Linked DNA regions of Homo sapiens: region 1 is linked to region 2. Evidence: fine-mapped expression QTL. A gene starts in region 2. The other region holds a variant in brackets. All regions are shown on one strand. Distances are from middle to middle.

Region 1 (9,613 bases), 69 kb before region 2:
CAGAGACCACTTTACTTCTTTCCAATTTGGATGCCTTTTCTTTTTCTTGCCTAATTGCTCTGGATGGAATATCCAGTATGATATTTAATAGAATTGGTGAAAGTGGGAATTCTTGCCTTGTTCCTGATCTTAGAGGAAAATCTTTTCAGTCTTTCACCACTGAATATGACATTCACTGTATTTTTCATATATGGCTTTTACTACGTTGAAATAGTTTCCTTTTATTTATTTATTTATTATTAATTTTTTTTCCGAGATGGAGTCTTGCTGTCACCCAGGCTGGAATGCAGTGGCATGATCTCGGCTCACTGCAACCCCCTCCTCCCGGGTTCAAGTGATTCTCCTGCCTCAGCCTCCTGAGTAATTGGAATTACAGGTGCGCACCACTATGCCCAGCTAATTTTTACATTTTTAGTAGAGATGGGGTTTCACCATGTTGGCCAGGCTGGTATCAAACTCCTGATCTCAAGTGACTCACCCACCTCAGCCTCCTCAAAGTGCTAAAATTACAGACATGAACCACTGCACCTGGCTCCTTTTACTTCTAGTTTTAGTGTTTTTTTAAATCATGAAAGAATGCTGAATTTTGTCAAATGTTTTTTCTGCATCAATTGACACAATCATGTGGTTTTCTCCCATTCATTCTTTTAATGTGTATATTACATTGAACAATTTTCATATGTTGAACCATCCCTGCATTCCAGGAATAAGACGCACTTGATCATAGTATATAATCCCACTGATATGCTGCTGAATTTGGTTTTGTTGAGGATTTTTACATCAATGTTTATGATTCAATTGCATTTTTAAGAAGTTTTCTGTTAAGTTCCAGTACTCTTAAAAAAAAAAAAAAGAAAGCCTCCCCACCCCCCCGACCCTGCCCACAAAATGAGACAGAGATAAACTCAATGGCTGAGCTAGACAGGACACCCATTTGTCATTTTTTGTCCACTTCAAAGTGGTTCACAATTTATCCTGACAAAGGCCTGCAATGGCTCCCCCTATTCCTCTGAGAATAAAAATTAAGGATTTTTCAATGGTCTCTATGAGATCCTAATTTTTTAGTATCATTTTCTGCCTCTCCTGTTCCACTACTGATCATGTACCTTAAAATTCTTCTCTCTCCATACTCTGCTCCAGCCACAGTGGCCTCCTTGCTGTTTCTAGAATACACTAATTATGTTCCTATCTCAGGTCCTTTGCAACTACTGTTCTTTGTACCTGGAATGCTTTTCTATCTGGTATCAGCATAGCTTGCTCCTTCACTTGCTTCAGGTTTTTGCTCACAAATCAATTTATTGAAGAATTTTCCTGAGCACACTACATATGAAATAGATAAACCCTTACCCACTAGCCCATGATGCTACACCCTTTTCCTCTTTCCCTACTACATCATTCTCCAAATGACTTACCACCAAGTGGCATACTACATATTGACTTGTTTTTTTATTCCCTAGCTCTTCACTCCAATGCCACCACAAAACGTAAACTCCATAGTGACAAAGATTTTGTTTTGTTCAACGAAATATCCTTGGTGCCTGAAGAATGCCAGACAGATATTAAATGCTTAATAAGTTTTAGTTGAATGAATAATCTCAGATATTGTTTAAAAATAGCAACATAAGTATTCATAAAATTTGTTCCTGAATTTCTGCAATGTGCAAACATATCAATAAAACTACAACCAAATGCTTTTACATTTTTACTTATTAACATATGTTACTTAATAGTTACTTATTGAGATGACTTGTAAAAATGGGGCTCAAAATTATCACTTAGATTTGTCTGTAAACTGACAGCTATCTCATGAAAAATATGGAATTTAAGATACAGTATCACAAAATTTCTTTTAGAAGCAATGCTACCATGTTGTTATCAATGTGAGCAAGTATACTCATAAGACTGAGGTAGTACCTGATGTTTTCCTTTTTGTACTATAGATTCAAAAACTGTCATTTGCATTATAGTTATTATAGCAGATGTAACTCCTGAAGACACTATCTAGGTAAGTTAACTGCCTAAGAGTCATTATCCAAGCCACATTATTTCCTCCAAGCTAGCTCATTCTTTGACGTTTTGCAGTCCTGGGATGAGCCTGGGTGAAGGTGAAGATACTCTAGGATTGAAACAACTGTTTATATTGGATTTCTCATCCTACAGCTTTTCCTAAGCTCTTTTAATTTCTAACATTAAAAGGTACTTAATATTAACTAGAATTTACTTTGAATATACTTGAACTATCTGCCATATGCAATTCCAACACCAACATCTTTGGTCTACTGAGTTATTTCAGCGAAAATAGAAACATGGTTACATATGGTTGGAAGGTACAAGTTTGGAACATCACAGACCAATGAAATAATGGTTTAGCTACAAACAATATTAGTTTAAATATTTTCTTTCTTTACATAACCTGATTCATTAAAAATCTGTTTGAAAAAATAAAGAATTTTAGAGCTAGTCTTTTTTCTTCTTTATACTTTTTTCCTGCATACTTTAAATAACCTCTAGATTACTTACAAATGCTATCTAAATAGTTGTTATGCTGTATTTTGTAATATTTTTTATACTGCTTTCTATTTCAAATAATTTCAATCTGTGGCTGATTGAATTTGCAGGTGTGGAACCTATGGATACGAACGACCAACTATAAATCAAAGACAAAGGCATCATGAAGTAAGGTTTTAAATTCCTCTAGTTGATAAGGCTGAACCTGTTTAAGATTGGGTCTGACAGCACGCACATTTTCACTTTTTAATTAGAATGCTGCAAATTAATATGTTTGTTATACTAAGTATGTCTGTCAGTAAAGAAAAATATTCAGAACATAACCCCCCGCCACCTATATCTGGTTGTAGAGGCAATAAATGCTCTTAATATATGGCCCTGATAATATCTGCTTTAATAATAAAAAGATAATAAAATCATCTTTCGAGTGTGTGAGGAAAAATTATTCTGAAAATGGAGAAATAACTTATTTGAAACCAGTATCTCCCTTTAAATTATAAAAAATTTGTTAGAATTACATCAAAGAATAAGAAGACTTTTTACATAAAGTTATTAGATTTATATCAAAACTACTTCCCCTGAATTACAATAATACAGTGTTACTTTTTTTTTTTTTTTTTTTTTTGAGACAGGGTCTCACCCTGTCGCCCAGGTTGGAGTGCAGTGGTGCAATCTCGGCTCACTGCAACCTCCACCTCCAGGGCTCAAGTGACCATCCTGCCTCAGTCTCCCGAGTAGCTGGGACTACAGACATATGCCACCGCATGTGGCTAATTTTTGTATTTTTAATAGTGAAGGAGTTTCGCCATGTTGCCAGGCTGGTCTCAAACTCCCAGGCTCAAGTGATCCACTTGCCTCAGCTTCCTAAAGTACTAGGATTACAGGTGTGAGCCACTGCACCTGGCCCAGTGTTACTTTTGTACCAGTAACTATACTAGAATAGACTAACTGGGCCTAATAATATTAATGCTATATTCTTTATTTTTACAGAGTAGGCCAAACACACATACACACGCTTCCTTCAGTTAAATTATACATTCTAAGGTACAGTGTCAGTATTTTCATAAGAATTTTGTTTACCCTGAAGTTTAAAAATTTGAAATATTAAAGAAGTTAAGATTTTAATAAACACAACTTTCTACCATTTGTGTGAGTAGGCCTTCAGATGGCAGCAAATGCAACATAATAAATGTTGGGCCTGTTTGTAAGAACTGGTTATCTGATATCCTCCTTTACTAAATTTTTTAAAACATGGGTTGCTCCCGGGGAAATATGCATTCAAGAGTGGGATGCGATCTAAAATCTAATAAAAGTTGCAAAGTATGTGACTTCTAGGTTTAAAAAAATTCTTGAGGGACTCAGTTTTGTGGTTTTTTAAAAAAACAAACTTCATTACATTTAGTCATCATGTCTCTTAAGGATCCTCTTGGCAGTAATGGTTTTTCAGATTTTTCTTGTTTTTGATAATCCTGACCATTTTCAGGAGCACCTGTAAAGTATTTTGTAGAATGCCTCTCCTCTCTTGGAATTTGATGCTTTTCTCATAATTAGACTGGGAGTATGGGATTTGGACAGGAGGATCACAGAGATAAAGTGCCACTTTTATCACAACATAGCCCTTGAAACACACTATCAACATGACTTATCACTGTTGATGTTACCCCTGACAACCTACCTGGCTGTCAGGTTTCTCCACTGTGAAGTTACTTCTCCCCGAACTCTTCTGCACTTCTTGGAAGTACTGTACTTCTTGGAAGAAAGGCATGCACAGCCCACACTTAAGGATTAGGGAGTTGTGTTTCACCATGAGGAAAGTGGAGTATTGACATACATTATTTGGAGTTCTTCTGTACAGATTTGTCTCTTCTCCATTTACTTATTTATTCAATCATTTATTCATTTATTCAATCATTTATTCATACCAGTATCAGCCCGTGGATATTTATTTTATACTCTGAGTTATAATTCAATACTACTTTATACTTTACTTATTTTCTTTTTCAAATTATTCCAACTTTGATCACTGTTAGCTCTTTTAGGTGACTCCTATGCCCCTTTGACATAGTCCCATTTTGTGGGTTTTTTGTTAAAGCCCTTCTTTACTTTTTTTTTTTGGCACTACAAGATGTTCTAAGCTGATCTTGTCTATTTTGTTATTTTTATTTTTTAATTTTTTTTAATTTTATTTATTTTTTTTGAGATGGAGTCTCGCTTTGTCGTCCAGGCTGGAGTGCAGTGGAGCCATCTCGGCTCACTGCAAGCTCTGCCTCCTGGGTTCATGTCACTCCTCTGCCTCAGCCTCCCTAGTAGCTGGAACTACAGGCGCGCACCACCACACCCAGCTAATTTTTTGTATTTTTAGTAGAGACGAGGTTTCACTGTGTTAGCCAGGATGGTCTCAATCTCCTGACATCATGATCCACCCGCCTCGGCCTCCCAAAGTGCTGGGATTACAGGCGTGAGCCACCACACCCAGTGTTTATTTTTATTTTTTTGAGACGGAGTCCCGCACTGTCGCCCAGGCTGGAGTGCAGTGGCACAATCTCGGCTCACTGCAACCTCCACCTCCTGGGTTCAAGTGATTCTCCTCCCTGAGCCTCCCGAGTAGCTGGGATTACAGGCGCCCGCCACCCTGCCCAGCTAATTTTTT[G/C]TATTTTTAGTAGAGACGGGGTTTCACCATGTTGGCCAGGCTGGTCTCGAACTCCTGACCTCGTGATTTGCCCGCCTTGGCCTCCCAAAGTGGATCTTGTCTATTTCTTGCCCTAGTCCTAGATTAAGCCATTTCTCCAAGGAACCCTGGTCCTTTTTAAAGGAGAAGGGTACAGATTCAGCATCCCTAACTGGAAAATTCTGAGAATTTTTGAGCACCAACATGACACCACAGGTGGAAAATTTCACACCTGACCTCACATGATGCGTGCACAAAATTATTTAAAATATTGTATAAATCACCTTCAGGCTATGTGTAAAGGCATATATGAAACATAAATTTTGTGTTTAGACTTGAGTCCCATCCCCAAGATATCTCATTATGTATATGCAAATACTTTGAAATCCAAAAAACCCCCTGAAATCCAACTGGGCACGGTGCTCACACCTGTAATCCCAGCACTTTGGGAGGCCAAGGTGGGCAGATCAAGAGGCCAGGAGTTCAAGACCAGCCTGGCCAGCATGGTGAAACCCCCATCTCTACTAAAAATACAAAAAATTTGCCAGGCATGGTGATGTGTGCCTGTAATCCCAGCTACTCGGGAGGCTGAGGCAGGAGAATCACTTGAACCTAGGAGGCAGAGGTTGCAGTGAGCTGAGATCATGCCACTGCACTCCAGCCTGGGCAACAGAGTGAGACTCTGTCTCAAAACAAAACAAAACAAAAACCTTGAAATCCAAAACACATCTGATCCCAAGCATTTAGGATAAGGATAAGGATAAGGATAATCAACTTGTATTAGAAACCAAGATTTGGGTTCTTGGTGTGCTCTTGCTACCGGGGTGTCATGGCATCTAGGAGGGCCTCTGTGTAACTAAATGTTATGTTATTTTGTGGAGAATTTGCATAACAAAATATAGAAATAAACTCATGGAGAATAGACTACGACTATGAAGTTGAAAGATTAATATAATTATAGATAGGGTATTATCACTTTTTATGAATGTGTTTTGAAAATAATGCATCTGAATAATATAAGGGAACCTAAATTTTTAAAAATATAAACTTAACACATGCCATTTTTGTTGCAAAGAGAAAAAGGTGACAAATGTATAATGTGAGGAATAAAAGAGGAAGTCCAATAGAATCCATCTTAATTCAAATGGACATGAAGTTAGTTGGATAAGGCAGGAAATTAAAACACACATACCACCCCCACACACACTCCTTACCTTAAACATTTTATTTTAGCTTAAACATATAAAAAGGCATGAATCATTTTATTTTAGCTTAAACATATAAAAAGGCATGAATCATTTTATTTTAGCTTAAACATATAAAAAGGCATGAATTTACCAAACTTAAGGCCAGGGCCTTTTTTTGTTAATGGGAGACCGCCGATTAGCATTCTGTATTATGTTTCTCATACAAACCTTACGTAAGTTGTATGTTATTTGAAATGGATCAAGGAATTCTATTTCTAGCAACATGGTAGGTTAGATGTCCAGACTGGCTCTACTGCTGGAATCTGCAATGCTTTATATATATATGTATATATATATATAATCTGCAATGCTATATATATATATATATATATATATAAAATTTGTTTTTTTAATTTTATTATTAAACATTTTCCTATTTTGGCACAAATGTAAAAAGCTACGAAAGGTGGCTCTTGACTTTAAGGTAATTTCATAATGCTGCTTAGAAAACTGCAGACTGCGGGAGACAGACTATATAGATCAAGACTGCCTTCCATACAGTTGCAAATCCCAAAATCCACAAAGTACAAATGAATGAGCAGTAAACCTACCTTGCAGAAGATGACAGCAAGTAAACTTGCCTGCTTGATCTTGATGATGGTAGAAAGAAGAAAATCTCCTGCAAGAATTTATAACTATAAGCCAGCTCTTAAATGAGTTTGTGGAGACGAAAAAGGATGAAAAGGCATAAGTAACATGAAAAATAGACTATATGTCTAATTAGAGTTATAGAAGGAGAAAATAAGAGGCATTATTCAAAGAGATAATGGTTAAGAATTTTCCACAATTATTCAAAGACATTATTATTATCCTCAGATCCAGGAAGCCCAAAGAATCCCAAGTGGGATTACAAAAAATAAAATGATGGAATGAAAAAAATAACGCCCTCAATACATTATACAAAACTGCAAAACACTAAATGGGAAGGAAAAAAAAAGGCTTAACACAGCCAAATAAAAGGGTTATTACTTACAAAGGAAGGGCAATTAAGACTTTTCAACAGCAATACTAGCAGTCAAAGTACTGGAATAATGTCTTCAATATCATGAGAAAACAGAATTCTACACACAGAGAAACTACCTTTCAAGAATGAAGATGAAATAAAGACATCTTTAAACAAAGAAAAAAGTGTCTGTTTCACCAAAGGATCTTCACTAAAGGAAATTCTAAAGAACGTACCTCAGGTAAAAAAAAAAATTATCATAGAAGAAAGGTCTCAGATCCAAAAAGGAACAATAAGCCAAGAAAACAGTAATTAGGTAAATAAATTTAAACAAAGGTTTACTACCTAAAACAGTAATTTGTCTAAAATTCTGTATGTGTGCATAAGAAGAATATGCCAAAACTAAGATAACAGACAACACTGTTACAGGTTGGGAGGAGGACAACCAGAGCATGCTAAGTTACTACATTATTCAGGAATAGGTTAAAGATACTGATTAATTGGACTTTCCTAAGAAAAGCATGTTAAAATAGCCAGAGCAACCACTAAAAGAATAAATAATATATTAATTATAAACAAGTATACATGCATGCAAGGTATGGAGAGGAGATGGAATGAGACAAATATATATGTCCAACTCAACACAAAAGACTGGCAAGAATGAGAGGAAGAATTGGATAAATAGAAAAACCACAGAAGGGGACAGAAATACACGTAAATCAGAGCTGGGCACGGTGGCTTACATCTGTAATTCCAACACTTTGGGAGGCTGAGGCAGTAGGAACACTTGAGTCCAGGAATTCAAGACCAACTTAAGCAACATAGTGGGATAACATCTCTAAAAAATTAAAAAATCAGCCCAGCACAGTAGCGCATGCCTGTGGTCCCAGCTACTTGAGAGGCTGAGGTGGGAGGATCGTTGAGTCCAGCAGATCGAGGCTAAAGGATCGTGCCACTGCACTCCAGCCTGGGCAACAGAGTGAGATCTTGTCTCAAAAAAGAAAAAAAAAAATTAAAAAAAAAAAAACTAAATCTATCGGTAACACAATTGACTAAAGTTCTCCAGTTAAAAAATAAAGATTGTCATTCAGAACAAAAATAAAACTCAACCTTATTCTATTTACAAAACTCCAATCAAAATACATGAAAAACTAAAGAATGAAAATACTGGCCGGGTGCGGGGACTCACGCCTGTAATCCCAGCACTTTGGGAGGCTGAGGCGGGCGATCACCTGAGGTCAGGAATTCGAGACTGGCCTGGCCAAAATGGGAAACCCCATCTCTACTTAAAAAACAGAAATTAGCCAGGCATGGTGGTGCACACACGTAATCCCAGCTACTCAGAAGGTTGAGGCACGAGAATTCCTTGAACCCAGGAGATGGAGGTTGCAGTGAGCTGAGATCATGCCACTACACTCCAGCCTGGGTAACAGAGTAAGACTTCGTCTCCAAAAAAAAAAAAAAAAAAAAAAAAAAAAAAAAAAAAAAAAGAATGAAAATACTACAGTAACCAAAAGAAAACTATACTAGCTATATTAATCCAAGAAAACAGCAATAACAACAATTAAAAAAAAACTGTAAGGCTAAAAGTGTGTTCAGATAGAGGGCCCTTTCATAATGATAAAAATTCAATTCAACAAACAGATAAAACAATTCTAATTCTAAATTGTTTAATTATTTTGGCTTATTATTAATGTACTTAATAGCATACATTCAAAATAAATAAAGCAAAAATTAACACATCTATAAGGAGAAACTGACAAACCCATAGCCATGGTGAGAGACATTAATTACCATGTCTTTCTTACTAGAGAAACTCATAAATCAGTCCCCAAATAAAACTAAACCCGAATCCAAAACAAAACCAAGACAGAGAAGATATGAAGAGAACAATTAACAAGTTCTTAGACATAAATATAACACTGTACTTAATAACCGAAAAAGCTGCATTCTTTCTAAATACACATGGAACATTTATAAAAATTAGCCATATTCTAGGTGGGAGGATTGCTTGAGCCCAAGAGGTCAAATTATTTGAATCCTTTCATTTCCCTCCATATTTTATAAATTAATCACTTAACAGCAATCATTTCAAAGCAAAGAGACTATCTGATTATGAAAAATAATATGATGCTCATGTAATACAGGGCTGCCACTGTTCAAGCTACTTCACATCTTAAATACATCACATTTACGCCCTCATTTAAGATCAACACATCACTGTAGGGATTAACAAAAAAGGATAAA
Region 2 (8,932 bases):
ACCAAGGATTTTGACACGGGTCTATCTAATTCTAGAGTCAGAGGTCCCAGCCATTATCCTAAGTTTCCTCTAATATTCTTCCAGTGGTATAACAATCCACCCTCATCTAGTCACCTTTGTGACCAATGACAACCAAGGAATTTCCAAGACAGCTGGAGGGAGTGAGGGGTGTACTCCCTGGCCATCATTTAGACTGAAGCTAAATGGAACTCCTGACCTTTGCCTCATTAATACCAGGCTTACTGAAACTAAGCCAAACAGCCCAGACAAAGCACACACAAAACCCCCTGCCTCCAACAACACTGACACAGGACTCTTTCGACATTCCCAAGTGCCTGTGATATAGTGGAAAACATATTCCTGAAAAACAAAAGGAATGTATTAATTCTCAAGAAGGAAATAAACACTTCCATGGTAACTCAGTCTAAAAATAATAAACTTGCCCTCAAAAAGTTACAACTCTAAGCCTCATTCTGCAAACTATTATAATCTTTTACACATTAATACTCAAGTTCCCCCTATTTAAATACCTAAACAGAAAACCACACAAAATTCTATAAATTTACAGTTCTTAAACAGTTTCCAAAATAAAATATGTAACTTTCATATGTGTTATCATATAATGGATAAAAGTATCTTATTCTATCCCTCTAATATAATCCAAACATTATAAGCCAAAACTAATCATGTTAATCAAAAGAACTTATAAAATAGAGTTGGAAGAAAAATATGTAATCAAATGCCATTTTCTATAAAAAGCAATATTAACAGCCTTAATGAGATGTAAATATTATCTTTGAATATTCAGAGGTTCTTGATTTTGAAACCAAAATCGATGTCATACACATAAATAAGTGAAATACTGTATCAGAGATTTGCTTCCAACTCCTCACATACCACTTGCCAAACAAATGTCCAAAAGAAACAAGCTAACATAGCTTTTAAGTAACCAAATCTGACACTCTGGATGAAATGAGTCTGAAGTAGTTTGTCCTCCCTGAAACAGGGTAAAGATAGCATAGTATTCTTGCTACCCAGGGCAAGAAAACTGTATTTCCCAATTGGATTTTTAATGATCAGATTCTTTCTACTCCGTGTGAACCTACAGTGTGAAGAAGCAGTGGACATACTATCAAATTCTTTACCCACTGCATAAAATAAATCACTTAGCATATTTCCTTCTGTTTTAAACAGATGCCATTTAAAACAGAAGTTTTTTTTTTCTTTCCCCTCTACATTCTCCCTTGGCACTTTCATCTTCTTACACAGATTCAACCAGTACACCTATTTGTATTATTCACTAAACCCATGTTTAATATATGCCTAGTCCTGACCTCTCCCCTTAACCACAAATCCACATTTCCAAAAGCCTTTGGACATTTCCAGCGTTTGGCAAGTATACAAAAAAGTCAACAAATCCAAAACTGATCTCATTACGTACCTCCTTGCCCGTATTTCTAGTAAGAGTACCACCGTCAACATCTCCGACACTTAAAAAGTGTAATCTTCAGCTGGGCGCAGTGGCTCACACCTGTAATCCCAGCACTTTGGGAGGCTGAGGCAGGCGGATCACGAGGTCAAGAGATCGAGACCATCCTGGTCAACATGGTGAAACCCCGTCTCTACTAAAAATACAAAAGTTAGCTGGGCGTGGTGGTGAGCACCTGTAGTCCCAGCTATTCGGGAAGATGAAGCAGGACAATCACTTGAACCCAGGAGGCGGAGGTTGCAGTGAGCCAAGATCACGCCACCGCACTCCAGCCTGGCAACAAAGCTAGACTCTGTCTCAAAAACAAAAGTGTAATCTTCACCTTCCATCTCCTCCAAACCTGCTCCAAAAACCCCTCCTCCTCGCCACCCACCTACGACATTGAGGTCCTGCAGAGCCTTCACTCTAATTCCATTACCACTGCCCTTGCCCAGTATTTATACTACATTGAAAGTCAGCTTTCCACATCAAATCATTCTGCACACTACTCTATTAGACCTTGGTAACTTCTCATTACCTCCCAAACGTCGAACTTTTTTTCCCCAAATGTCAAACTTCTAAAAGCAGCACTTAAACATGCTCCACAATCCTGCCCCCACTTAAAATTCAAACCTCATCTCTAATTCCCAAAAATGAACAGTATATTCCAGGTAATCTGGTCCACTAACTTTTCTCCAAGTACACAATGAACTTTCCCACCTCCACACTTCTGCTCACATCATTCTCTTTATTTGAAAGGCCTTCTTCACCCACCTACTCCCAATCCATAAATCTTTGTCTTAGAAAAGTCTTATTCTCTGTAACATTAAACTCAGGTTACCAGTTTATTGGGGAGCAACATGATGCAGTAGAAACACACAGGCTTTGGCACCAGACAGATTTGGATTCAAATTGGGGCTGTTACATGCTAGCCACATAGCCCAGGCAAGTAACTTAACATATTTGAGCCTCACTGTCCTCATTATTAAGGTACTTACATATTGCTGTGAAGCTAAGAAAATGCTGTAAACAGCAACTAGCATTAAGTCTGTTCAGTAAATGCTCAATAAACAGTAGCTTCTGAGCTATCTCCACAAATTTCCATTACTTAAGCTAAAAATGAACCCTTTCTTCTTTTGTATAATTTACTCCAAACTTTACCTCAAACCACCCATAAGTATTTACAAATGTTTATGTTGTAAATGTTTACACAAATCTTATATCCCCTTCTAGATTTCAAATTCCTAAAAACCAAAAGTTTAATCTTTATATCCTAAAATGCCTAGTATAGCGCTTTTCATGAAGCACTCAACACCCATCGCCAATGTTAAGTCCCAATTACAAAAAAAATTGTTAGTATGCCTAAAGAATACAACTCAACTCTTCATGATTTCAGAAATTATTACCAAAACATGAAACTCAACTGTTATGGCTATACCTTTATTTGCTCCTTACATAGTTACCTAACATAGCATAGCAAATAGCATGCTATGCATAACATAGCATAACATGCATAGCAAATGCTCAGTGTTTGTTGAATTGACTTGTATAATATAAAAATACAATCAGTATCTGATTTTCCCCAATCACCTTTCTCTGCTCTTAAAACTCTTGAAGTATTTCCCTTAAAAATACATTGTCATACCTGCAAATCTGTAACTACATCTAACTTAACTATTTTTCCAGATTCTCTCAATTCCAATATTCCAATCTTATGCTCTAAATAATTAAGTACTTCACATGTGGAAGAAGCTACAGTTTCTATCTAAATTTAAAAGTTGTGCAAATATGCTGGGGATGGTGGCTCACAACTGTAATCCCAGCACTTTGGAAGGCCGAGATGGGAGGATCACTTGAGCCCAGGAGTTCAAGACCAGCCTGGGCAACATAGTGAAACCTCGGCTCTACAAAAAAAAAAAAAAAAAAAATTAGCCAGGTGTGGTGGTTGGTGCCTATAGTCCTAGCCACTCAGGAGTCTGAGACAGAAGGACTGCTTGAGTCCAGGAGTTGGAGGCTGCAGTGAGCTATGATGGGGCCACTGTGCTGCAGCCTGGGCAGCAGAATGAGGCTGTCTCGAAAAGAAAGAAAAAAGAAAAGAAAGGAAGAGGAAAAAGAAAAGTTGTGCAGCTAATCTCTCCACAATTTTTTCCAAGGACTTTAAAAATCATCTACCCTTTGCCTGTTCAAAATCAACAACCTTGAAATAAATTTTCCTTTGCATAGGAAAAGCTCACTGAACTTGTCACTTCAGTCTATTTTTCCTGATTCATGATACCACCTCCCCTTTCAGGGGTGGGAGGAAAGAGAATGACATAAGTACCCAAAAAACTACAGAATAAACCCTAATCTACACACAAGATGAGAGTTGCAGATAGCGTCACTGGTTTCAAGAAGGTGATTTGTGAATACTTTACGCTGCAAAAACAGTGGCCATCTGCTAATAGCAATAATCTGCAGTAACTGCATTCCCTTATAAAAAGTTTTTAAATCACCATTTATTGTGGAAAACCCATATTTCCTACAAACCTTTCAGCAGTAAAGTTTACTACCTAAAATCTGTTCACTAAACCTACCTACATCACTTTCTCCCCTAGGAAATCCTCAGTTTATCCGAAGTAAACACTTCATGGAATAAGTTTAAACAAAACATCTCTGCCCACCTGTGTGAAACTCTGCATTGCAGCAACAATTTTAACAGTGTAAGGAATCTCTCAAGAAAATCCAAGAACAATTTTTCCTTAAGAAAAATGACAGTTCCAAATATGAAGGTAAACAAACTTTGGGAGAAAGGATATAACTGTCCAACTCTTTAAAATCAATTCGTACAGCCTCTGAATGAACTCATCATACAACTGTGACATCAGATAGCCAAAAGAATTAAGAGTGTAGATTAGAGAAAAGCATCTTTTTTTTTTTAGTATGTCTGCAAAAAAAGGCGGGGGAGGGGGTGTCTAAACTACTGATTTTCCTTAAGCAAGTTTTTTCTTTAAGTTTACTTCAACAACAGCTTCAGCAAGCTTTCAAGTGAGTAAAGATGATACAGAGCATGCTGGTGCCACAGCGACCTACGTATCCAGGACCGGTTCCGAGCCCAGTCCAAATCGATCCCGGACAACCCTGAAGCAAATCTGGATGAAAAGCCCTGCAAAAGATCCCTGGCATGTACAGGCAGCGCCCCACCCTGGAGGGAAAAGACGACACCCCTGGGACCCGGGTTAATTACTGACCCCAGGACAGACCCAGAGGAGGCGAAAAGTCGGGAACTGGAGCCCAAGATTGAGTCTGGTGTCCAGCTACTACCCCAGGCCGGACACAGAATACCAAACTAGGGAGCGGCGAGGTTTGGGGCAGCACACATGAGGGGGGTCGGACGGACGAACAGAGGCCCAGCCCATCCCCACTCTCGAGTCCCAACAGCAACAACAGCTCTGGGAACCCCCTCCCTGGCTCCGCCCCGCCCACCCCATGGACCCACAGCCAGCTCTTCCCGTCCCGCTGGCCCGGAGAAGTCCGCGGCGGTCGACAATCCCCTTCCCCGGACGCCGGCAGCCGAGCCCTCAGCCCGGATCCCGAAGCGGGCAGCGGGGGCACGAGAACGCCAGCTCCGACGCGGGCCCGCGGCCGTCCCAGTCCGTTTCCCTAGCCACTCACCGTCCGCCCAGGTGCTGAGAGGGAGCAGGGCGCGGGTCGGCGGGCGCGAACCCCCAGACTCCGACCCGCGCTGGAGCCCCTACTTGGAGCAGATCGAGTCTCAGCCGCTGTGCCTACAAGGCCTCTCTCCGGCCCGAATCTTGGAAAAGCACTTCCGGGGGAGCGGGGGAGGGAAGGGTTTTGGCACCGGAACTGCTCTCAGCCCGGAGCTGCCAGGGCCTCCAGGGCGGGGCGGGGCCTCTCTCGCCGGGCGCCCACAGATCAGCCTCTGGGCTCCTAACTAACCCTTTCCGCCCCGCGCCTCCTCGATTCCCCGGCTACTGCTGCACCCTTTGCTTTAACTGCTGTTTGAGTTGTTTTACTCCAGCCAGCTAATTTTACAAATAAGGAAACCGAGGCTCGGAGAATTAGGTGCAAGAATCCAGTGCCTACACCCGGCCTCCCGACTCCCTTCAGTGTACTCTACGCTCCAATCTGCCTCCTTTAAAAAATAATGATAATAGTTAACATTTATTGAACGCTTACTACGTGGTAGGCACTGTATTAAGTCCCTTCGGGTGCATTAACTTATTTAATCATCCCCAAACTCCTTGGGGTTGGTGCTATTATCTACGTCTTGCAGGGGAGAAAAACGGTCAAAGATACCAAACCCAATCTCACAAATGTTGGTTGATTTTAATTCACGTGTGTATAAATCTCATCTACCTATACCAAGATTTTGAAATTATTTAAAAACAGGGCTCAAACTATATTCCTATATTCTGTCATCACTGGTGACTTCAACAGAGGCGAGAGCTGGGGTTGGGGGGTTGGGGGGGTTGGGGTGGGGATCTGGAATCTTTTTGCTTGTCTCCTTTTATTTACTTTTATTTTTTCACCCTGGCAAGTTATAAAATCATCTCTGCATTGTAGGAATCCAAAATGATAATGCATGATAAACATTTCAGAATGTCTGGCATTGGATAAAAGTTAACGATTCTTATACCTCATCAGCAATAGGCAATAGAAAAGATTAGTTAAGGAAATAAGAAAGAGTAGGGGTTGGCCGGGCGCGGTGGCTCACGCCTGTAATCCCAGCACTTTGGGAGGCCGAGGCGGGTGGATCATGAGGTCAGGAGATCGAGACCATCCTGGCTAACAAGGTGAAACCCCGTCTCTACTAAAAATACAAAAAATTAGCCGGGCGCGGTGGCGGGCGCCTGTAGTCCCAGCTACTCGGGAGGCTGAGGCAGGAGAATGGCGTGAACCCGGGAAGCGGAGCTTGCAGTGAGCCGAGATTGCGCCACTGCAGTCCGCAGTCCGGCCTGGGCGACAGAGCGAGACTCCGTCTCAAAAAAAAAAAAAAAAAAAAAAAGAAAGAGTAGGGGTTTTTACAACTGGAAAAATACAGGTGCTTGTGAAGCTCCATGCAGTGATAATATGAGGACCCACAGAGTTACATACCAGACAGGGAAAAGGGATGGAAAGGAGGAGGGCGTGGGATTCCTCAGCCACAAAATCAGAAAGGCACCAGATATCTGAGGCAGATTCTGTATCTGGGATGCAGGGAAAGAAAAAAAAGCCTCTTAGCAATGCATACTATCTGCAAAACAAATGTACTAACATCTCTTGAAACTGGGGGGGGGGGGGGTGGCGGGGAAGATTTTTAAATGTTTCTACTATGAAAGGCAGGGGAAAGGAAAAAAGTTGAAAACCCATTATTACAAATTTAAGATGCAAACAATGCCACTGCTCTTGGCTTTATTTACAGGGCTTTCTTACTTTATTTTTGTGATCGCAGAAGTGTTGGCAAATACTTCCGTAATACTCAAATTCAAGCAGCCTTTTGTGCCTCAGAGTGTGAAGAAGTAAAAAACAGCGTGGGTTGGCAGGACTCACCGACATCTCTTTTTACTCAAGGCCTAAAGGGATAGTGAGAGGAATCCTGAATCACAGATATTATCAGGCTCTGTGTGGGATGCAGAGGTGCTAGAGGTTAGTCATTTAATCTGGTCATCTAACTGGTAAATGGAGCCGCCTGGGTTTGAATTTGCAGACCATATTCTCAGATGCTTTTCACCACTATCCCAGTGGTTCTCAAATTTGAGAGTGCATCAGAACCACCTAAAGGGCTTGTTAAAACAGATTGCTGGGCCCCACCCCTAGAAGTCCCTGGACTAAGCCTCTCAACATCATCTGTGAACTTGTTACAGATGCACATTACTGGGTCCCGCCCCAGATCTTATGAATCAGAAGCTCTGGGGTGGGACCCAGCAATCTGTGTTTTAACAGGCCCTCCAGGAGATTCTGATATACTGTCAAGTTTAAGAACCACTGCATAAGATATTAAGAACTAATATCTTGTCTTCCACATATTCCTCTTTTTTTCTAATTTTTTCCAACAGGGATAACTCTTACCGGAGCAAAAGTTCTTGCCGTTGAATTAAATGACCTATTGAAGGATTTTTATTCATGTTTTGCTCTCAGTGAAAGAAGATGAGGCTAGAAAAAAAATTACTATAATGGAGGATTCATTTTGATTACTTTAAATTTGTACTGAAATGTAACCAGATAATACTGGGTTGGGGGTGGAACTAATATTATTTGGGAATTACTCTATGCCAAGGCTTTACACGCGTTTTCTAAATTAATCTTCACTACATTGCTATGAGGTTTTATGGTCTTAATTTTAGAGATGAGGATAACTGAGACTTAGGTGAAGTAATTGACTTAAGGCCACATTCTTGTTAAGGGGCAGAATCAGGATTGTGCAAAGATCCCTCTAATTCCAAAACTCATGTTCTTTCCACTTCGTGGCTGGAGCCTGGAGAACCAAATTCCACTGTGGGCTCCACTGCCCCAGCTATGCAACATTGATTAAGCGATTTAATCTCTATTTCGATTTCTCCATCTATAAATAATGTTATCATAAATCTGCCCCACCCACACTGGAATGTCAGAACAAATGAGGAAATGAAAGTGTAAGCACTTTCAGCTTTTTAAAGAAAAACAGTAAAAAGGCAAGTTATTAAGGCATTGTATGTTTAGGCAAGTGTTGCTGTGTGATTCTGGACGGTGAAGTCTTTCCCAATTATCTCCTGATTCATAAAGAAGAGTGCCAAAGAAAAAGTTGTTTGACTTCATTTACCAGTGTCTCCTGGAGGTAGAAGATGACAGAGGATTGTATGCATCTCTTGCAAAAATTACAAGCAATCTCTCACCAGGCTCATTCGGCTCCAGGTTGTTGCCAAATTGCTGGCCCATCCTCATCTTAGAGATGTCTTTTCTCCTAACCCTTTTCTTCTGTCCATTCCAGGCATCCCTCTACCCGCCTGCCTCTACCCACTAGGAAAGACTTAAAATTCCTTTTACTTTATTATGTAGAAGGATTTAACTCTCAATCCTCATCTCAGGCCAGACTCCAGGCCACCTTTATTGACACAATTACCATGTTGTGCAATTCCAGGGGGTGCTATTCACAAAGAATACAACATGAATGATGCTCAAGAGGTGACAAACACAAATGATGCCCCCTGGAACTGTGCAAGGCTGTGGCCCTGTCTATGCATAGCTCCTACCCCCAAAATCCATTAAGGTGTTTTGTTAAACAAAAGAGCCATCTACTTGGGTGTCCACCCTTTGCCAAGCTTTGAAATAATGGGGTTCTTTGATTTTGTTTGTTGGTTTAATGCAGATCTGATCCTAACCACACAGCTTAAGTTCTAACTTCCACACTCTACTGTGACACTTTTCACTCTTTTCTGTGACATTGTTGCCTATCTCCCCACTAGACTTGTGAGTTTCTGAAGACCTTTTTATATTTTGTCTTCCTCA

The links. PIP is the estimated chance that this variant, and not a neighbour inherited with it, causes the effect.
Region 1: its variant is fine-mapped to the expression of FRS2 in whole blood (INTERVAL, PIP 0.95).

What each region holds. Positions count from the first base shown.
Region 1 is chr12:69,535,345-69,544,957 of GRCh38, reverse strand. All of the region lies in intron 3 of FRS2 (fibroblast growth factor receptor substrate 2), which reads right to left. Among named protein-coding and RNA genes, the nearest start is that of SNORA113, 25 kb to the right of the region's middle. The variant G/C (reference allele first, on the strand shown) is at 5,159.
Region 2 is chr12:69,466,718-69,475,649 of GRCh38, reverse strand. It overlaps FRS2 (fibroblast growth factor receptor substrate 2), which reads right to left and starts at 5,262. Exons shown (of 9, transcript NM_001278356.2): 1 at 5,120-5,262. RefSeq lists enhancers at 4,869-4,918, 5,090-5,591, 8,262-8,875.